2 linked regions of the Homo sapiens genome follow. The protein of the gene in region 2 interacts with the protein of the main gene of each other region in a biochemical or structural test. Each region holds a gene or a part of one and is shown on either strand. Other genes may lie near its edges.

The links.
Region 1: the proteins of FCHO2 (region 2) and EPS15L1 form a complex in vitro, tested with the Homo sapiens proteins (one study listed by BioGRID).

Annotation. Positions count from the first base shown.
Region 1 is NC_000019.10:16,460,264-16,471,453, forward strand, and holds part of EPS15L1 (epidermal growth factor receptor substrate 15-like 1), read right to left. Parts: intron 1-11,190.
Region 2 is NC_000005.10:72,949,467-72,961,273, reverse strand, and holds the start of FCHO2 (F-BAR domain only protein 2), read right to left. Parts: upstream 5,234-11,807; 5' UTR 5,178-5,233; coding exon 5,145-5,177; intron 1-5,144. UniProt on the Homo sapiens protein: Functions in an early step of clathrin-mediated endocytosis. Has both a membrane binding/bending activity and the ability to recruit proteins essential to the formation of functional clathrin-coated pits.

The sequences.
Region 1 (11,190 bases), on a different chromosome or scaffold from region 2:
ACAGAGCCTGTCTCTAAAAATAAAAAAAGAACAGTGTTTCACCAATTCTCTTAGTCTCAGCTGTCATTTTCTTAAAAAAAATACAATTTTACACACAGCAGATAAGTACACACCTGTAAAAACCCACTTAGTGTGAATTAAAGGACATTTTAAATGTGCATTAAATGTGAATTAAAGGACATTTTCTAGTGGCTAAGAGTCAACAACAACAAATTAAATCAATAAAGTCAACTGACTATAAATGCCAACTCAGAGGCTGGCCTAAAAGAAAATGCCAACTCCATGGCCTGGTGTGAGCAAGCAAAATAACAGCAACAATTTGCACCCTGGTGATGGACAACCTTGCCCAGCCCATCAGCAATTGTGGAGCCTGCTCCTCCACTCCAGAAGCCTCGACCCACAGAGAAAGTTTCCAAAGCCAGCACGGGGGTGCCGCGGGCACAGAGCGTTCTAGTTCTCAGCAAAGAAAAAACTCAAAGGGAAGAACGTTTGCAAGAACATGCGCCTAGGCCAATCGTGTCTGGGACCCCCCAACCACAAACAGTGCCATTTGTAGGGTGTGGGGGGAATTGAGGGGGACAGTCCATCCCCATAACCGTACAGTCCTGGTTAAACACGCTCAGTGTGAGGGCCTCATCATCAAGTTTTTTCGTGTTTCATCTTTCCCCTTTGGAGAGTGTGAAATGAGATAGTTTTCTCTTCCACTGGAAAATATAAAATTGAAAAGCACGTCCTCTTCAGATTAAGAAAAGCCAGCTGGGGCCAGGCGCGGTGGCTCACGCCTGTAATCCCAGCACTTTGGGAGGCCGAGGCGGGCGGATCATGAGGTCAGGAGATCGAGACCATCCTGGCTAACACGGTGAAACCCCGTCTCTACTAAAAATACAAAAATTAGCCGGGCGTGGTGGCAGGCGCCTGTAGTCCCAGCTACTCAGGAGGCTGAGGCAGGAGAATGGCATGAACCCGGGAGACGGAGCTTGCAGTGAGCCGAGATTGCGCCACTGCACTCCAGCCTGGGCGACAGAGCAAGACTCCGTCTCTTAAAAAAAAAAAAAAAAAGAAAGAAAGAAAAGCCAGCTGGGCATAGTGGCTGACACATGCAATCCCAGCACTTTCGGAGGCCGAGGCAGGTGGATCGCTTTGAGCTCAGGAGTTCGAAACTGGCCTAGGCAACATGGAGAAACCCCATCTCTACAAAAAATACAAAAATTGGCAGGGTGTGGTGGCATACACGTGTGGTCCCAGCTACTCGGAGGGCTGAGGCTGGAAAATCACTTGAACCCAAGAGGCAAAGGTTGCGGTGAGCTGAGATCGCGCCACTGCACTCCAGCCTGGGTCACAGAGTGAGACTCTGTCTCAAAAAAAAGAAAGAAAGAAAGAAAGAAAAGCCAGTTTTCTACAGATTGGCGTAATGACAGAGGCACACTTGTTGATGTCACTTACACAAGAGGAAAGCCCTTTCCTCACCCTCTGATGAGCGGAGGTGAGGAGGTAGCAGGGCCCCAGCCCTGGTGGTGCCCTGACTGCTGTCACCGGCCAGTGGGCTCGAGCAGGCGGCTCTGGGCCCTGTGCCTGTTTCTTCACCCAAGAGACAAAACGTTCCCTTCTGTCAACTACCCTCAAAGACAGCTGGAGAGACAGACTGCGCTCCTGGCTGCTGTTCCAAGTACCCAGCCTCCAATCAACAGATATCACCAGCCTACTATGTGCCAGGAGCCCAGATTTCAGGGGCTGGGAACCCAGCAGGGAGCAGGAAAGACAGAGCTCCTCGACCCTCCCGGAGCCCATGGTGTGGCAATCATAGGACAAAATGGTGGCTTTGGAGCCCATGGTCTGATTCAGACGCCTGTTCTCCATGGGGGTCTGACCAGTTGTTTTACCTCTCTCCCTCTCAGTTTCCTCATCTAGAAACAAGCACAGGGACAATGGCACCATTGTTGGTCCCACAACATTCCCTCACTCCTGCATCAGACCTGTGCCCCAAATCTCTCCCCAGGGCCCAGAGCTGCCTGCCTGGGCCCACTCACTGGTGAGGGCAGTCAGGGTACCACCAGGGCTGGGGTCCCGTTGCCACCTGTTCTGGGAGACCAGGTTACCAGAATCAGGGAAGTGGGGGGGAGGGCATGGTGGCTCACACCTGTAATCCCAGCACTTTGGGGGGCCAAGGTGGGTGGATCACTAGAGGCCAGGAGTTCGAGACCAGCCTGGCCAACATGGTGAAACCCTGTCTCTACTAAAAATACAAAAATACAAAAAAATTAGCCAGGCTTGGTGGTGTGCACCTGTAATCCCAGCTACTTGGGAGGCTGAGGCAGAATTGCTTGAGCCCAGATGGCGGAAGCTGCAGTGAGCCAAGATCATGCCATTACACTCCAGCCTGGGTGACAAAGCGGGACTCCACCTCAAGAAAAAATAAAGTAAAACAAAGAATCAGGGAAGTGGGACTCTGAGAAGGCAGAGAGGGGGCCAGGAAGCTGTGAAGATGGTGGTGGGAGACAGGGCCTGTGCAAAGGGTGGGGGCAGGACACTGGTCCACGCAGTGTACAGCCAGTCAGAGAGGCTGCACCCAGCTGCTTCCTCCAGGCCTGTTGGAACAGAGGAGGGAAAAGACAAAAGGAGGCACAGGCGCCCTCTTCCTCCTGTCCTTTATTCCCAGCCCAGTGGAGGTGATTCATCCCACCGCTGTGGGTGCCACCTGACTTCCACGAGTGTGTCACACTATGTCCTAATTTTCTGTGTGCCTGGGTGCCCAGCTGCAGTTGAGCTGACCTGGAGGGTGGGGCTCGGTTTTATTTATCTTGGTCCCAAGACAGCACACAGTAGCTCAGCAGACAGAATCTCATGGTGCCCCAGCCCCAGAGCTGGTCTTCTTTTTGACTGTACCTAAATGTGGGGTCTCACGTGGCTTGGAGGGTTTCCTGCAAAGTGATGGGTTTTGACTCAACTGACACAGCCACAGCCCACCAGGCTCTGCCCACCAGGCACTCCCACTGCTGCTGTCCTGGCTCCCTGAAGGTGGCCTCAACCTGACGGTTGCAGACACTATGCCTGCTTCTTCCCCCTGCTTCCTCTCCCACCTAGACCCTCACCTGTCCAAACAGCTACCCCACATATTCCTTTCACCCCCAGCCCTTTCTACTCTTCCTGAAACAACCTCAGGCCAGGTTCCTCTTGATCACTTCATGCCCATATCACAGAGACTGTCTCGGAGCTAGAACCCAGCTCCAAGCACTCCCTGTGTAAGCAGCCAGATCATCTAAAGGTGTCACTCCTCAAGAACCTGCCATAGCTCCCTACTGCCTCTCATAATGTGGCCCATGCTACTCTTCCCTCAACAGATGATTGTTGAGCACCTGAGTGCCAGCTGCAGCCTGGCAAACAAGGATGAATAAAACAGGCACAGTCTCTGCCCTTGTGGACCTAGTCTAGGTGGTTGGGGAAGACAGACCATCAATCAACCCCGCAAAGAGAAAATTATAAACGGCTAAATGGAAAAGGTGTCCATCTCCACCAGTGGTAACAGAGATGCTGGGCCAGTTTGTCAGGAAAGGCTTCCCTGAGGAAGTGATGCCCCAGCTGATATGAAAAGGTGTAGGGATTCACCAGAGGATGAAGGGTTTGGAAAGAGCATTCCAGAGAGAGGGAATAGCAGATGCAAACGCCTTGAGGCAAGATGAAGGATCGCCTGCGCAGATGACAGAAAGAGGGGCCAGGGGGCCACAGAGCAGAGGGAATGAGGACTGCAGGCCTGGGAAACACGGGGAGCAGGTGTGCTGTCAGCTGCCGGTAGCAGCGCCTGATCCAGCCTGGCTGGTGTGCCCAAGAGGAGGAGAAGTGACTTTATGTCAGCCTGACCTGCAGGCAGTCAGTAAACAGATTCTGTTATCAGGTCTACATTCCACACCACAGGCAGTGCAGATGGAAATCCGAGACAAATGTCTGTGGTCATCTGTGACCTTTACTTTCACCCCAAAGCTTGTAGTATCAAGAGCTGGGACTCCTATGAAGGGAAAAGCCCAAAGAAGCTTTAAGAGCTAATGGTCTGCACTCCATGCAGGAGCAAACTTCAGGGCCACCACTCTGACCAGCGGTAAAACCCAGTCCAGCGCGAAGGACAGTGGGCAGGTCTCAGCTCCTCAGCCCCCACCAGCCACTGGCCACTCTCTCGGCAAGCAGACATCCTGTCAGTTCGGCCGATTTGTAGCCCAGACACAAACTCTCACGTCTTATTTACCAAAAGACCTTCCTCCTCTCATCCCTGAGCTGCCTAAATTAAAGGAAGGACATGAACCCCAAAGTCCCAGCCGCATGTTTTGGCCCTTTGACCTAGACCTGCAGCCTCTCAGCTCTGGCTCAGTCCTCTTTGCCTCCGTGTGAAAGGCTATTCCCCATGGCCTAGACCAGGGGTGTCCAATCTTTTGGCTTCCCTGGGCCACACTAGAATTGTCTTGGGCCACACATAAAATACACTAACACTAACACTAACACTAACACTAACACTAACACTAATGATAGCTGATGAGCTTTAAAAAATTCACGGGTGGGCATGGTGGCTCACGCCTGTAATCCCAGCACTTTGGGAGGCCAAGGCGGGCAGATCACAAGGTCAGATCGAGACCATCCTGCCTAACCAGTGAAACCCCGTCTCTACTAAAAATACAAAAAATTAGCCAGGTGTGGTGGCGGGTGCCTGTAGTCCCAGCTACGCAGGAGGCTGAGGCAGTAGAATGGCATGAACCCAGGAGGCGGAGCTTGCAGTGAGCCGAAATTGCACCACTGCACTCCAGCCTGGGCAACAGAGCGAGACTTAGTCTCAAAAAAAAAAAAAAAATTCACAAGAAAACCTCATAATGTTTTAGGAAAGTTTACAAATTTGTGTTGGGCTGCATTCAAAGCCATCCTGGGCCACATGCAGCCATGGGTTGGACAAGCTTGGCCTACACCAAACACGCCCTCTCCTCCATACAACCATGTCCAACACCCAAATGGAAGCCAGTCATCTGCCCCTCCTGCAGCTTGGACCACCCGTGACCTGAGCCTCTGCTGTGGGCCGGGCCTGGACAACTCAATTCTGCATGGGCCAGGAGCACTGATTACCACTCTGGCAGGGAAACCTTTGGATTCTCCTAAAGACAACTGGCTGGGAGTGGTGGCTCACACCTGTAATCTCAGCGCTTTGGAGGCAGAGGCAGGAGGATCACTTGAGGTCAGGAGTTCGAAACCAGCCTGGGCAACATAGCAAGATCCTGTCTCTACAAAAAAATTAAAAATTAGCCAGGTGTGGTGTTGCATGCCTGTAGTCTCAGTTCCTTGAGAGGCTGAGGTGGGAGGCTCACTTGAGGCCAAGAGTCGAGGCTGCAATGAGCTTTGATTGCACCACTGTACTCCAGCGTAGGCAATAGAGCAAGAGCCTGTCTCTAAAGGAAAAAGGAAGACAATAAGCAGGCCTTTCCATGTCCCTCTCTACCTTTTAATGAGATGAGATTAAAGTAATAAAATAAAAACTCAGACTACATGATATCTAATAACTAGGTATAAAAACAAATGAGGTTAGGAGATGTCATAAACTTAAAAACAAACAAACAAAAAAATAACTTTCCAAGACAAGAAACTATGGTGCAATGAAGAGGCCTGAACCTGTGTCAGAAAAGCCATGTCTGCCTGAGCTCACTGGGTACAAACTTGGGCAAGGGACGTAACAATCTCTGGCCTCACTTTATCTATTTTTTTTTTTTTTTTTTTTGAGACAGAGTCTTGCTCTGTCACCCAGGCTGGAGTACAGTGGTGCAATCTCGGCTCACTGCAACCTCCACCTCTCAGGTCCAAGCAATTCTCCTGCCTCAGCCTCCTGAGGAGCTGGGACTACAGGCATGTGCCACCACGCCTGGCTAATTTTTGTATTTTAGTAGAGACAGGGTTTCAGCATGTTGGCCAGGCTGGTCTTGAACTCTCGACCTCCAGTGATCTGCCCTTCCTGGCCTCCAGTGATCTGCCCCTCTTGCCCCTATACACTGAAGATAATACTGGCCAGAGTGACCGGGAGGATGAACCAGGCAATCTATGATGTTTTCTTTACTCAGTCCTTCCAGCCTGGTGGTGAGACCTTTCCTGACCTCCATCATCAGATCGGAACCTGCCCTGCTCTACTCATCTCACAGCATCAATCCCCACCGAATGCACTACACATTGGGCTCATTTCTTTATATCTGGGCCCCTCCCAACGATGTCAGCCCCGTGAGGCGGCACTGCCTTCAGATTCACTGTTCCATCCACTGCCCAGAAAGTGTCCAGCAAAAAGAAGATGCCAAATAAATACTCACTGAACGAACAGTGTGATCTACAAAAGGCAGGCATGAGGGCCAGGCGCGGTGCCTCCTGCCTGTAATCCCAGCACTTTGGGAGGCTGAGGCAGACAGATCACTTGAGGTCAGGAGTTCGAGACCAGCCTAGGCAACATAGTGAAACTCCATCTCTACTAAAAATACAAAAATTAGCTGGGTGTGGTAGTGGGCGCCTGTAATCCCAGCTACTCAGGAGGCTGAGACAGGAGAATCGCTTGAATCCAGGAGGCAGAGGTTGCAGTGAGCCAAGACAGCGCCATTGCACTCCATCCTGGGTGACAAGAGTGAAACTCTGTCTCAAAAAAAAAAAAAAAAGGAAAGCACTGAGAGCACATGCGTCACACGGCAGGGTCCTGACACTCTACTGTGACAAAGCAGGTCAAGCGAGTCCACAGTACCATTCTGCAGATGAGAAAACTAAGGTACAGAAAGTATTTGCAGGACTGAGGGCAGTGAAGGAATATCTGGGAATCCAAACAAACATCTAAGGACCTAAACATTGAAAAGCAGGCACCACTGCACCTGATGGTGCCTGCTTTTCTTTTCTTTTTTTTTTTTTTGAGACGTAGTGTCACTTTGTTGCCCAGGCTGGAGTGTGCAGTGGAGTGATCTTGGCTCACTGCAACCTCCGCCTCCTGGGTTCAAGTGATTCTCCTGCCTCAGGGTCCCGAGTGGCCGGGATTACAGGCGTCCGCCAGGACGCCAGGCTAATGTTTTGTATTTTTAGTAGAGATGAGGTTTCACCATGTTGGCCAGGCTGGTCTCAAACTCCTGACCTCAGGTGATCCACCTGCCTCAGCCTCCCAAAGTGCTAGGATTACAGGCGTCAGCCACTGCACCCGGCCTGGAAAGTTGTTTTAAAGTTCAGAATGGAGGTGGAGGGGTCTTGCCCAGGGAGAATCTATTTAGTCGAAAAAACAACAACAACAACAAAAACAAAAAAAAAACAGGCCAGTGCAGGTCAATAAGTGACAGTCAGGGAATTCTGGATCTTTCAGGAGTGGATTTTACTCTAAAACTTCGTTCTCATCAATTTAGACTGCATTGCCATTAGCATTCTACTAAGATAGACTAGCACTTATTTCAGAGGAAGAAAAGAAACAAGGGACAAGAGGACAAGTAAGTGTCCGAGCCACTCAGCATTCATTCCAGACACACTGGCCGGGTGCTGCTCTGGGAGAGGTGCCCAGCAGGCCATCTGGAACAGCAGGGCTCTGCGGCAGGAGGACGCAGGTGTGACCTCAGCTCTGCGCCCACCAACTATGAGACTTCAGCAAGTTACTCTATTTCTGTGGGTCTTGGTTTCCTCACTTGTAAAAGGGGAATAAAAGCCTCCTAGAATGGAGGCACCTACTGAAATACAGCAAAAGCTCCTGGATGAAGAACACATAACAAGGGGGAAAGGAGGAAGGTGTAGCTCTTTGGGCCCAGGGCAGTCTCTCCTCATCACTGAGCCCAGTTACCACGCGCTTCCTAGGTACAGCGGTCACAAAAGGGACCCACGGAAGGTACAAGGGAGAGAACTCTCATTCGGGTGGGGCTAAGGGAGGACAACACAGGGGAGGCCTCAAAGACCGTCCTTCAGGGCAGGCAGCATACGGCAGGAGCTCACAGTGATGTTCTAGCAACCGGAGCAACACAGCTAAGGATGCTGAGGCTAGAAAGTGTTGCCAAGAGCCAGAAGTGCAGGAAAGGGACCCAGCAAGGTTAGGTGGAGTCGATTCAGGGCTTACTAAGGTCATCAAAGCTGACTTTTTTTGAGACTGAGTCTCACCCTGTTGCCCAGGCTGGGGTGCAGTGGCGCGATCTCAGCTCACTGCAACCTCCGCCGCCTGGTTTCAAGCGATTCTTGTGCCTCAGCCTCCCAAGTTGCTGGGATTATAGGCGTTTGCCACTATGCCTGGCTAACTTTTGTATTTTTAGTACAGACAGGGTTTTGCTATGTTGGCCAGGCTGGTCTCGAGCTCCTGGCCTCAAGCAATCCATCCACCTCAGCCTCCTAAAGTGCTGGGATTATAGGCATGAGCCACAGCGCCCAGCCATAAACTGAGTTCTTTTGGAGGAAGGGGAATGGGAGCTGTGAAAGGTTTTTGGAACAGGGGAATATGTTTTAGAAGATGAATCCTAGCCAGATGCAGTGGCTGACACCGTAATTCCAATACTTTAGGAGGCTGAGATAGAAGGATTGCTTGAGGCTAGGGGTTTAAGACCTGCCTAGGCAGCATAGCAAGACTTCATCTCTTCAAAAAAAAAATTGTTTAATTAGCTGGGTATGATTGGTGCTGCGCTCCTGTAGTCCCAGCTACTTGAGAGGCCAAGGTGGGAGAATTGCTTGAGCCCAGGAGTTTGAGGTTGCAGTGAGCTATGATCCTACCACTGCACTCCAGCCTGGGGGACAGAGCGAGACCCTGTCTCAAAAATCAAAAAGATGACTTCCACAGTGGCGTGGGATTAAGTGGGAGGGAGTGGGCAAGTAGGAAGTAGAATGGCCCAGACCACTTTGGGGCATGGCAAGGAAATGGCCCATTCCAGAGTCCAGCAGGCTGGCAGAGGTGCAGGAGAGAGACACCTTCTGGACTCTAGAAGGCAGGTTTGAAGTCCTCTGCACAGAAGCTCCAGGGGAGGGAGCGCACAGAGAGATAAGATGCAGGTAGGGAGGCTGAAATTAGGGGACAAGAAGGAGAGACTGAAAGGAGAGAGGATGAAGAGTGAAGACCGACGGGCTCCAGTGTTGCGGAGTTCGAGGAGGATCGGCTGCAGCCACAGGGCACCGGGGTTAAGGACGGAGGGGCCACCGGTAACCTCGGGGAGTACAAGGAGGAAAGAGATCTGGATGCATTTCCACGGAAGGCTTTTTGGAAAGCAGAAGAGAGCTGAGCAGGGGGACAGGGAGACACACAAATCACTGAGATGCTGTTGGGAAAAAAAAATCACTCCTAAAGAGGCAGAGGTGCAGACCTTTCGAATTTACGTTGATATTCAGGGTCAGAAAAGAGTATATAAGGAAGGAGATTCTGAGATGATGTCATGGAGTACAGAACAGACTGAAAAAGATGCTGATGGGAAAAGTGCAGACAGGAGTGGGGGTGGAGAAAACACACCCCTCCTCCCCTAGGCTAGCCCGCTGGGTTATCCACTTTGCTCACCTTCACCTGGCCATCTGCTTGCCAAGTGTGCTCTGTCACCTAAATCCAACCAGATCACAGCCACCTGCTGCAGGGTGCTTCCCTTTTGCCCCCAACCAAAAATTTTGGAATTATACCCTTGGTTCCCCCAGAGTTATCTGTGAACCCAAGTGATCTCCTGAGCTAGACAGTAAGGGCCTGGGAGGGCCATGCCTCACACCTGGGCCAACAGTAACCCATGGTGTAGATTTTCACTCGAGAGCAAGTGTAAAGAAGTGCTGACATTTCCAAACGAAGAAAACCAGGCCACGCCTTCATTCAACAAATGTATAGGGAAAGGAACAGGAAGAGGCTAAGAAGTCAGTGACCTGGCCAGGCGCAGTGGCTAACGCCTGTAATCCCAGCACTTTGGGAGGCCAAGGCGGGTGGATCACTCGAGTTCAGGAGTTTGACACGAGCCTCGCCAAAATGGTGAAACCCCGTCTCCACTAAAAAAAAAATACAAAAATTAGCCGGGTGTGGTAGCACGTGCCTGTAGTCCCAGCTACTCAGGAGGCTGAGGCAGGAGAATCACTTGAACTCGGGAGGCGGAGGTTACAGTGAGCTGAGATCATGCCACTGCACTCCACCCTGGGTGACAGAGCAATACTCCATCTCAAAAAAAAAAAAATTGGACAGGAAGTTTTAGAAAGATCCACGCCTCCCAAACTGGGAGTGCTTAGTGCTTTCTCATGAAATGATCTTAGGTGATTTTCCCCCGACTCCCGCCTTCCCCGCCCCCCACCCCCTGACTACATACTCTAAACTGTAGCACTTAGCTATTAACACCTATTATCGGTAGGACACTTAACAGTTTACAGAGCACTTTCATGTCAGTAACAAGAACTTGCTAATTAATAATCACCGGGTTTTAGCACTGTTAACTTAGTGACAGTGTTGCAAATTGGCTAGCTGTGCACTTCTCTCTCCTTGGATCAGCTAACCAGTCATGCAAGCATGCAACCGGCCTATCAACTCTCTTTGGGTTTGGAATTCTTAATTGCTGCGGTCTCTACTCCCAAACGTCCAAATCTGGCAGAGATTAAATGATGACAGTAATTATAGGATCACTGAGTGCCTCTCATATGCTAGGCACTGTTCTAAGCGCTTTTTCACGTGCTTAATTTTCACATAATCCCAACACATTTTTATATCTCCATTTTCCAAAGGAAGCAACTGATGGGTGGAATGGCTAAGAGCTTCAACCAAAGGCACAGAGAAATCGGGGCTGGAGCCAAGATTTGAACACATGATCTGACCCTGTGTCCTCACTCTTAATCACCATGCTGTGCTAGATCATTCTAGCAAAATGCTTATATGGTGCTTTGCACAACACAGGTATTCAGCAAATAAAGGCAGCTGTGATTAGCATAACACAGGTAGTTTCTAGTTCCCACGAGTGTCACCTCCAGGAAAGCAGCGACCTTGTCTGTCTGGAAGAATGCAGCGCTCCCAGCACCTGACCCAACGCACATTTGAGGGATGGATAGAAAATGAATGAATGAAAGTCTCTCCCAAATAACAGAGCTGCCTACGCATGGCTCTTTTTCGCATGTCTGTGTCGCGCTATCGATACTGCCCCTTCATAAGCGCATCAGGCGAATTTGAGGACACAGAGAGGCGCCCGGAGACGTACGATCTGCGCCCGGTGCAGGGGTGGCGGAAGCAGCTTCCAAGGAGGCAGG
Region 2 (11,807 bases):
GAATGTGTGTTAGTCTCTCATCTAGGATACTAAGTTTAGATTAATCAAGCAAAAATATAATAATGTTTTTTATCCCAAAGACCTATTAATAGCAATTCCAGAATTTTAAAATACATTTTAATTCTCTTAGCTTATCCAAGTAATGATAAATCAAATTTTGGGTATATAACCAATGTTTCAATTTAATTTTAAATCAAAATGTAACAAAACCAATAAAATCAAGTGAAATGAGACTTCTGTACAGTTAATCAGTAAAAGAAATAAGGAAAAACTTCAGGATAAAAATACCTAATTGTTGTTTGTTCATTTTTTATGTGCTGACTATAGATAACCTCTGGAAAAAGTCACCTAACTAAAAATCTCAGCTCATTACAATGTGATATATACTAAAGAATACTACTTAGTGTCTTTGGGTGAATGCTTCATATCGTATATAGATTGGGATTACTCTGTAAAATGAAGATTATAAGCTATTCAACTCAGGTATGTTTTACATACTTATTTGTCCCCCATTAATAATTACCTATGAAATGCATTAAGGTTTTTTTGCTGAATAATCTGGGTTTACATAAAAATATAATGCCATTTTAATTATTACATAGCAATGTTGTTATAATCTCAAGACTATTATAAACTTGTACTCAATTATTCCTTTGAGAAAGCAGCGGCTTAGACACTTCCTCACTGTAATACTGATCAATATCTTTTTAAAGTTACATAATCTTTTATAATATCTTTTTAAAGTTACATAATGTTTAATATGTAAAAATAAAGATAAAAAACAATTGTTTTTACATATTAAAAGCAATGGTGTGAATTTCTACTAGTAAAATTATTTTTGCGTCCAATTTTAATTTTGCTGTCCAATTTCAGCTTGATTATCAATGGTGCTATACTTCGTGGCAAAAACTGACTTATCAATAACAAAACACCTGTTCTGTAAAAGGTTTTGAATAATTTTTCCTTCAAAGTACAGTATTAAGTAAAGGAATTTTCAATTTAGCATATAGTTTCAATTGAGAAAACCTATACTTTAAAGAAAAAGGAAGAATGTGCTGCTTTCAAAAGAGCTTGAAGAGAGTTTCAACGATTCAAACTTTCTTCTAATGAAATGTCACAACAAAAAAGGTTTGTCTTTATACATGTAGGGGAGAAAACAATTAATAGGTTGTTTGATTAGAAACCTAAAACTTTGGCTGGGCACAGTGGCTCAGCCTTTTAATCCCAGCACTTTGGGAAGCTGAGGCGGAAACATGGCTTGAGCCCAGGAGTTCGAGACCAGCCTGGGCAACATAGCGAGATCTCATCTCCACAAATAATTTAAAAACCAGCTGGTCATGGTGGCCTGTACCTGTGGTCGCACCTACTTGGAAGGCTGAGGTGGGAGGATCATTTGAGCTTGGGTGGTTGAAGCTGCAGCGAGCCATGCTCGTGCCACTGCGTGCCAGCCCAGGCAACACGGTGAGACTGCAATTCAGAAAAAAAAAAAAAAAAGAAAGAAGAGAAGAGAGAGAAGAGAAGACAAGACAAGACAGACCTAAAACATCAAAGGTTCTCACTACCTCACTTTGACAAGTTTTTATCTTTTAATTGATGAAAAACATATATATTTATCATATAGAGCACGATGTTTTGAATTTTGACAATTTTATTTCCTTTTAATAGTTCCACTTTAAATGCTAGAGGGAAGAGTTAAATTAATATCTATTTTAAGGGATTATTTTATAAATGATCCTGAAATATGTGAATTTTTAGTTTTCTGTTTTTGAGACAGGGTCTCACTCTGTTGCCCAGGCTGGAGTACAGTGACCAATCATAACCTACTGCAACCTTGAACTCCTGGGCTCAAGCAATCCTCCTACCTTAGCCTTCCAAGTAGCTGGGACTACAGGCATATGCCACCACACTTGGCTAATTTTTTAAAATTTTTTGTAGAGACAAGGTCTACTGTGTTGCCCAGGCTGGTCTCCAATTCTTGGGCTCAATCCATTCCCCTGCCTCAGCCTCCCAAAGTGCTGGGATTACAGGAGTGAACCACCATGCCCAGCCTAAAATGACAACTATAAATTCTCGGAAGTTAATTATTTAGTTAATTCCTAGACCTTCCTAGCTCACTGAGCCTCCTCACAGCCCCAATTCCAAGCCAGGAAATAAAATAAAATGCAGTCTATTAACTATTTGTTTTCAATAGTGAAAGTGAAGGCAAAAACTAAAACATAAATTAGATTTGGAGGTCTCTCCAGAATTCAAATATTGAAGTTTATTCCCATCCCTCTTGTAACAAGAATACCCAAGAAGCACATAAAAATGTGTAGAAAGATATTCAGAGAAGTATTATTCATATTAGCCAAAAACATCAAACAAAGCTATGCTCAAAGCTCAATTAACAGAAAACGAAACATAACTTTTAATGTGAAGATGCAATTTGGAATTAAGTTAGCAACTTAAAAAACATTCATGCATCAAAAATATGCATAACATTTACAAGAGCATCAATTTTTAAATGCTCTTTAAAACATTTTATAAATTGCCATTGTAAAACCTAATGCCTAAAATTGACAGGCTAATCCTAAAATTCATCTGGAAATGCAAGGAACCCAGGGCAGTCAAAATAATCCTGAAAAAGAAGGAAAAAGCTAGAGGACTCATACTTCCTGATTCCAAATTTGCTATACAAAACAAATTTGTAATCCAAACAACAGCAATCCAAACTGTGTGTTACTGGCTGTCGTAAGGGAAGACAATGGAATAGAATTGAAAATACAGAAATGAATCCATACATTTCTGGTCGATTGATATTTGACAATGGTACCACAATTCAACGGGGAAAGATGAACCTTTTCAACAAATGGTACTGGGACAACTGGATACACAATTGCAAAAGAATGAAGTTATACCTTTCCCTTGCACCATACACAAAAATTAACTTCAAATGGATCATAGAACTAAACAGAAGAAGTAAAACTATAAAACCCTTACAAGAAAACAAGAAAAAAGGCGTAATTTTTGGGTTAGGCAAATAATTTTTGGGTTAGATGCAATAAAAGCACAAGTAATAGAAAAAAATAGATAAGATGGACTTCACCAAGACTTCACGAGAAATAAAAACTTATGAGTTACTTCAAAGAGCAGCATCAAGAAAATGAAAAGGCAGGCCACAGAATGGGAGAAAATGTTTGCACATTATGTATCAGATAAGGTGTGTATCCAGAATATTAAAAAAAAAAAAACTCTTACAACTCAATTATAAAAAAAGACAACCCAATTTTTAAATGGGCAATTAATCTAAATAGACATTTCTCCAAAGAAAATATAAAAATAGGCAATAAGCACATTAACTGTGATGTTAAGCATCAAAGAAACGCAAATCGAACCACAATAAAATATTAATACTACTTCACGTTCACTCACTATATTATAATAAAAAGGACAAATAAGTGTTCGTGAGCATGTGGAGAGGAACCCTCAGATATTGCTGGTGGGATTGTAAAATGCTACAACCACTTCAGAATAGTATGGCAGTTCCTCAAAATGTTAAACATAGAGCTACGATTTGACCCAGGAATCCCATTCCCAAAAGAAATGAAAACATATGTTCACACAAAAACTTGTACAAAAATGTTCATGCAGCATTATTCATAACCCAAAAGTGGGAACAACCAGATGTCCATCACTGATTGGATAAATATTAATAAAATGTGGAATGGAATATTATTTGACCATAAAAAGGAATTAGTAGTGATACATGCTACATCATGGATAAACTTTGAGAACATTATGCTAAGTGAAAGAAACTGGTCACCATGGCCCCATTTATAGGATATGTCCAGACTAGACAAATGCAGAGAGGCAGAAAATACATTAGTTGCCTAGGCCTGGGGCAGGGGGAAAATGGGGAGTGACTGCTAATGGGTCTAGGGATTCTTTCTGGGATAACGAAATTGTTGTAAAACTGATATGGTGATGTTTACACAACTCTATGAACATATGAAAAAACCTCTGAATTGTACTACACTTTAAATGAGTGTATTGGTACGGAAATGTGAACTCAATAAAGCTGTTTAAAAAACAAAACACCTAAGGTCTAGTATATACGTTCTTTGTGGAAAACAAGGTACATTCAAGACAAATAAATAACTATGAACTGATCTGATTACTAACCAAGACCATGCTTGAGGCACTTAGAATTAAGAATTTAACATACATTCCTTACTAGCTAAAAGATTACCCCTTTAAATATGTCTAAATCTCAACGAAAATGGACCTGCAGTACTTGCAACTGTCAGGGCATAAAATGGGATTCACGAAAGATACCTGAGTAAACACGTTCCTTTCCTGTACATGGCTGAACTGTACTTCCCATTACAAAAAAAAAAACAATAACTGCAGAAAAATACTCCACCGGGAGCCGGAGAAATTCTCAAAGAAGAATCTAATACTGAGCTAAGACAAGGGGTGGAAAGAATGAGGAAGGGGAAGGAGCACAGAGTAGGGGGAGGTCTCCATGCATTTAAGCCCAAGGAGTCCAGTTACATTAAATCCAACTTTTAAACGCTTTGTGAACAGGCCCAGAGGCAAAGTCCTGGGCGCAAACCCACGAGCCGAGCTGCGAGGCTGAGAGGAAGTGCTAGTCCAGCCCAACCCCGCACTGGATTTGGTGTGGAAACCGTCAGAGGTAAAAGGGATCGCTCAGATGGGGGGCCCGCGGTGAGGGCAGGAGGCAAAACCCCACCGCCCGGCGCTCCCAGCCAGCGCGCAGCGGGAGGCGGCTGTGCCGCGGGCCCGTCCTTCGCGTCCGAGCTGCCGCGCACGCCCCGCGCGGAGCGCGGCACCGGGAGCCTCCGGTGGGGCTGGGTCCCGTCTCCCGCCCCATCCGGCGCTTTGTCCCAGCCCCGGTGGCCGGCGGCCCCGCTGCGGGCCCCCGGGCCGCGGTGACAGCCCCCGTCCCCATAGGGCTGCGAGCCCGGGAGTCCCTATAGGCTGGCGACCGGTCGCCCGCCGGACCTCACCCAGGCGGGACGCGGCAGGAGGACGCTCGCCCTGCCGGAGGGGCCGCCGCCGCCGCCCGAAGCGCACGCAGGCCAAGCTCAGGCGCCAAAAGCCTTGGACTTCGAAACACACGACTTCCAACATCCTAAGCTTACCCAAAAATTCTCGACGAAATACGCCATGACCATCGTGCCGCCGCCGCGCCGGGTTCCGCGTCCGCGCCCGCCCGCCGCTGTGTAAACACGGCCCGGCCCCCACAGCACCCCCGCCTTTCGCCGCCGCCGCCTTCTTCCCAGAGACCGGCCCGCACCTTCCAGGGCGCATGCGCCACCTAGCGGCTGCCGCAGCTGGGCGAGCACTTAGACGCCACGGCCACGGTGTGCGCATGCGCCCTGTCCCCATTCTCGGGTGTTGGTAGATCTCTCTGCATCCCGGGCGCGGCTGGGTTGAGTGTTCTCTTAGGAATGGTGGAGAACTGGGTCCTTGAGGAGTCACCGGGGAGACTGCTCGCACTGTTTGTGGTGCGACGGGCACTGGCCCAGGGACAGAGGGAAGAGAAGGGCCAGCCAGCGGCAGTGGAGTCGGCAGGCTGGCTGCCCACTCGCTTTCTCTCCTCACAAGACTCGCTTCCCCGGCCTTCGAGGATCTCGAACGGACTATAGTCTGGACTCGCTGGGCTGGAGGAAACTTGGCCGCTGGCCACCCGGAGGAGACTGAGAAGCCTTTGGTCAACAGGGCGCCTTTCCTTGAACCAAAACAAAACTTTCCGAAGCCGGAAAGGAAACGCCCAGTGTCGCCTGAGAGCCCTGGAGCTGCGCGAGACCCAGGCACTGAGTGCGGCCTCGGCCTCTGACCTCTAACACGCCGGGAACAAACCAGCTGGGGCGGCCCGCAGGCCTGCGGGAGCGGAATGTGACCCGAAACCGACGGACTTCCTGACCCATAGTCCATAGTTCTCTTCAGCAACTTGAACATTTTGGAAAAAGAAACAAGTCTTAACATGCCACGACCTAATGGAAAAACTAAATCCCCTTCCTACACCTTGCTTTCCAAAAGTTAAAAAAAAATAGTTAAACGCTATTAGAGGTCTCAAGTTCACTGTCACCAGATCAGCTAGGTCCAGAATCTTCAGTTCTTGAAGCCAAGCCCTACAAATAGATTTATTGTAGCATATCACACCTCTTCAGGTGACTTAAAACAATGAGAATTCATGAGAAATTATCTTCATCCTCAAGTAAAAATCATGAGGTGCCTTTCACATGGATGAAATTGTAAGTGCTTGTTGAACAAGGAATAATTGGATAATGGTATTGTGGTCATACTTTTTAAGAATATCTGTTAGAAAGATATAGGATGCAGAACATCTAGGATTTGCTGAAAGTCATTTATTATGGATAGGGGTATGAGTAAGGTCATAGATGAAAAGGGATGAAACAAGATTGGCCATAGTTGCTCTATTTTTGTGTATCTTGTTTCTTTATTTTGTTTCTTTAAAAAGTCCTCATATCACTGACATTTACACTTAGTTTTAGGGAAAGTCAAATTTAGAAATAAGCTACAGCTCTCTAAGCTATCGGTCTAACTGGATTTTTCTCGATGCTGAAGAACTTTTTAAAAAATTCAGCCATCTAGGTCACACAGCAAATACATTTGGCATTAAATTCCTAGTATCACTAAAGTACTCCCTCCCACCGCCGCGCCCCCCCCCTTCCCCCCGCACCCTTAGACCTGGGCAAGAGAGACTTCTATCCTGGACTCCATGCTTTAAAGGAACTTACATATCACACACACACATTAATTTAAAAAAAAATAGGTGCCCCTGCCGCTTGTGATCTGATACTGAACACTGGCTCATAACCATAAATTCCCTCTCCCAGTGAAGAACACTATTCAGGCCCCAGGAAAACTCTTCTTCCTATCTTTTGTCTTCTGTCCTCAAAACAAACGGTGAACTCCAAAAGCAGTGAAAATTTGTACATAGCATGGCTGCCCATTTCAGAGACTGCTTTGGAGTCAGAATTTGAGCAGCAGAAATGCTTAGGTAAGAGAGAAGACAAATTAACTTGTCAAATCCTTCATCTCAGCTTGAATGCTATAGATTCCTGCATGACAAAGTATTGTTTCTCAGTAGTATCAAGCATACATTTTCCTTTTGTTAGTGTTCCAATGTGTGGCTATTACCTACAGACAATTTAGTATAGTATTCACAATAGTTACTGGCCTTCATTCGCATTCTTCTGCTCCCCTTAAATTTAGGAGTAGATCTGGAATGAAAATAAGTATTCTGAGTATTTCAGGTATTTGCAAGGTTCATTAGGGCCGAAACACCATATCCTGTAATTGCCTGATGTTTAAGTTGTGGAACTTTATAGTAAACAGTGATTAAGGTGACTAAATTTCAGACAAGACTGTGTAGTATAGGAAGAGCGTGGATGGTATCAGCCTCCTTCTGCACTCTCAAGTGAGGTTTCCAGGGATGAACATACATTCTGGCAGAGCATAGATAAGCTCCTGAGTGGGTAGTGCTGGGTGGGGTTACAGGCATGAGCCACCGAGCTTATATGCGTTAAAGTGTTTGTGCCACACTCTCTTAGACTTTGCTTATCAAAATGTATTTCATTTTGAAATTATTAAAAACCAACATAGATAACAACAGTGTACAAGTCACTGCCTATAATACCTGTCACTTAAGAGTCAGTAAATGTTCAGTGAATGAATGAATGATGACATCTATCATAGAAATGTCAAGGTAGATGAGACCTTGAATATGTAATAATTCCATTATCTTTTACACATTCTCTTTTTTTTTTTTTTTTTTGAGACAGAGTCTCGCTTGGTTGCCCAGACTGGAGTGCAGTGGTGCGATCTCAGCTCACTGCAACCTCCACCTCCCAGGTTCAAGCGATTCTCATGCCTCAGCCTCTCAAGCAGCTGGGACTACACATGCCCACCACCACGCCTGACTAATTTGTGTATTTTTAGTAGACACGGGGTTTCACCACGTTGGCCAGGCTGGTCTCGAACTCCTGACCTCAAGTGATCCGCCTGTGTGGGCCTCCCAAAGTGCTGGGGTTACAGGCATAAGCCACCGCGCCCAGCCTACTCATCCTCTTTAATTGGTGCTTGATCCTAGAGTTTGTAGAAAATATCATTATTTAAGTTTTTTATTTAATTTTCTCATGTTACTTTAAATATATTCAAAAGAATTCTTGTGGGCTTGAGTGTACTTCTTAAAGGATAGAGTACTTTTTTTTTTTTTTTTTTTTGAGACAGAGTCTTGCTCTGTCACCCAGGCTGGAGTGCAGTGGTGCAATCTTGACTCACTGCAACCTCCGCCTCCCAGGTTCAAGTGATTCTCCTGCGTCAGCCTCCAGAGTAACTGGAACTACAGGCATGCGCCACCACACCTGGCTAAGTTTTGTATTTTCAGTAGAGACGGGATTTCACCATGTTGGCTAGGCTGGTCTTGAACTCCTGACCTCAGGTGATCCACCCACCTCGGTCTCCCAAAGTGCTGGGATTACAGGCATGAGCCACCACACCTGGCCTTAGTGTACTTTGTGAAATAAAAATAAAATAAAATTTAAATAACATCCAAGATTTACTGTAGCAAGAGATTGCCTGTTGGAAAGGAGCCCCTACTCAATTTGGACTTTGATTTTTGGGTGTCACCGCTACCAGAATCATCTTTCTCTTAGGATCTCTCTCGATACCTGCTGAAGAGATATAGGCTTCCAGGGATGCTGTTGATCCCCATTAAACTCTGGCCTAAGCATATATGTTATAGCCCAAAGCTATAGACTTTTAAAACATAACTTGATAAATGATACCAAATAAGAGACACACAAAATAACCTAAGTCTAAATTATCTGGTTTACAAAATATGGTTTATTTCCAAGATTTGAGGGTTCAGTCTCTTAGGCAAGGCACCCAGAGCACTTCCCCCTTTCCATTCCTTAGTTTGATTTCCTCCCATTTCTCATCCTGGGTTCACAGCTCACAGCACATGAATCAACATTTAGTCATAAGGGCCATTTCCTCATAACTTCATTTGAAACTAGGTCCATGTCAGAAGGGTTGACTATAAAGAAAAATGCATTTTCTCATTTTTTTCAATATAATTTTGCAAATGTACTTCCACTTGTTTCCAAGATGGGAGTGGCAGAAGAGAAGATCCTATAAACCTCTTCTGTTTCCTGCCAATTTCTTCAAGGCGTGGCATCCATCCCCGGTCAGGTGCAGTATTCTTTCTCTGAACTCATGTTGTACTTGACAATAACAAGTGGCAAAAGAGCTAAGCTCTATTAAAAGGCAGAAAAGAAACAGGCAGATCCCTGAAGTCTGGTACGCTCTTGTTTTTCTGTACTCAGTAGCAGCATATTAAAAGCAAAAGCCTTATGCAAAACAGAAAGGAAAGCAAAAGCTTGGCAGATGGCAGCCAGGCAGGCTGCTATGTGAGGGCCGAGAGGTAGAAGCATGTTGATCGAACTGCAGAATAGAGCTCAACATCACCCTGCACGCTACTCATTTCAGAGCGGCTTACCAGGTGGATGTGCCTTTCTTCTCTCCTAAGTGCACCTGGGATTGACTCCCTGCCTGCTCCTCATGTGGTGCCATCTCTTCCTCCAGAATGAGATGTACTTTCCCGGGTGCTCCTTCATTTTGTCATTTGTGGAAGAAGCACAAACACCTGACCAGTTGTTCCAGGGTCTGCATTGCTAGTGACCACAGGGAACCCAACAATGCTTCAAAAATAAGAGAAATTACTAAATTACAGAAAGCCATGAAGATAATGATAATGTAGAAACACTCAGGGCTGGGCACAGTGGCTCACGCCTGTGATTCCAGCACTTTGGGAGGTCAGGGCAGGTGGATCACCTGAGGTCAGGAGTTTGAGACCAGCCTGGCTAACATGGCAAAACCCCATCTCTACTACAAATACAAAAGATTAGCCAGGCGTGGTGGCAGGCGCCTGTAATCCCAGCTACTTGGGAGGCTGAGGCAGGAGAATTGCTTGAACCCGGGAGGTGGAGGTTGCAGTGAGATGAGATCGTGCCATTGCACTCCAGCCTGGGCAAGAGAGCGAGACACTGTCTCAAAACAAACAAACAAACAAAAACCAAAATCAAAACAAACACTAAAAAATGTTTGTCATTAATGTTAAGTAGAAAGACAGAAGGTGTCAAATTACAAATATGTTGAGTCATACATTTTATTTGTAAAATTACAAATATGGGCCAGGTGTGGTGGCTCACGTCTGTAATCCCAGCACTTTGGGAGACCGAGGTGGGCGGATCACAGGGTCAGGAGTTTGAGACCAGCCTGACCAACATGGTGTAACCCCATCTCTACTAAAAATACAAAAATTAGCTGGGCGTGGTGGTGCCTGCGTGTAATCCCAGCTACTCAGGAGGCTGAGGCAAGAGAATTGCTTGAACCTGGGAGGAGGAGATTGCAATGAGCCGACATCATGCCACTGCACTCCAGCCTGGGCAATGGAGCAAGACTTCATCTCAAAAAAAAAAAAAAGAAAGAAAAATTACAAATATGTAAAAAAAAAAAAAAAAAGTATGTTAAATAGACAAATGTAAAACATGGAAGACATTTAAAATTTAATATAATAACATTGTACAATTTAAAGAACAATCGTTCTATGTTTTTGTCTGAATATAAATGTAACTGGGCCTAATCTTCTTTAATGTCTTTCATTAACTCTCTCCTCTGTTTCATTCATTCAGGCAGTAGACATTTACTATGCACTTGTTACAATGAAAAGATTGTCTCTGCTTGCTTTTTTTTTTTGAGACAGGGTCTTGCTGTGTTGTCCAGGCTGGAGTACAGTGGCGCAATCGTAAGTCACTGCAACTTCAACCTCCTGGTCTCAAGCAAGCCTTCCTACTTATGCTTCCCTAATAGCTGGGACCACAGGCGCACACCACCATGCCCACCTAATTTTTTATTTTTTGTAGAGATGGCATCCCCCTATGTTGTCAGGCTGGTCTTGAACTCCTGGGCTCAAGTAATCCTCTCGTCTTGGCCTCCTAAAATGCTGGAATTACAGGTGTGAGCCACCATGCCTGGCCATCTCTGCCTTTGAGAAATTCACAGTCTAATATAGACGTATGATGAAGATGATAGAGATCATGGCAATTATAGCAATAATGTGCATAGAAGAGTGCCTGACGCATAGTTGGCAAGCAATACACATTTGTTAAATGCATTAATTAATGAATCACTGTTCCAAAACGTAACCACAAAGAAATGTAATTTGTATTTTTATTGTATTTTCCTTCTTTCTTTCCTTCTCTCCTTTTCCCTTCAACTCCCTCCTTTCTTTCTGCAAGGAAAGTGACAGGAAACTGCCTTGGATTCACCCAGGGTATCCTCCATTAGCACACTGATTTGGGGGTCCATGGAATAGTAGAGTCCAGAGCAACTTCTGAAACTCAGTCCTGGAGCCAGCTAGCTCCCTAGGAGATGGATGCTTATGAAGAACAGGGCACTAGAAATTGTAATAATAGGAGCCCAAGCAAGAAGCACCCTTGGCTTAGCTAAGAATGGAGGAAGTGGACTTGAAGAGCTACTCCCCTGAAGAGCCACTGAATATGAGTCACCAATGGACCAGCACTTTCTGTACACCTTGTAGCACCAGATTTCAACAGAACACAGTGTACCAGTGGTCCTATTCACTGTTTATCTAACAAACATTTATTGAACACCTGTATTGAGCTAGGCCCTCTTCTAGACACTGGTGATACAATGGTGAATGAGACAAATAATTGTGCTGCTTTCATGGCACTTAAGTGTACAGAGACAGA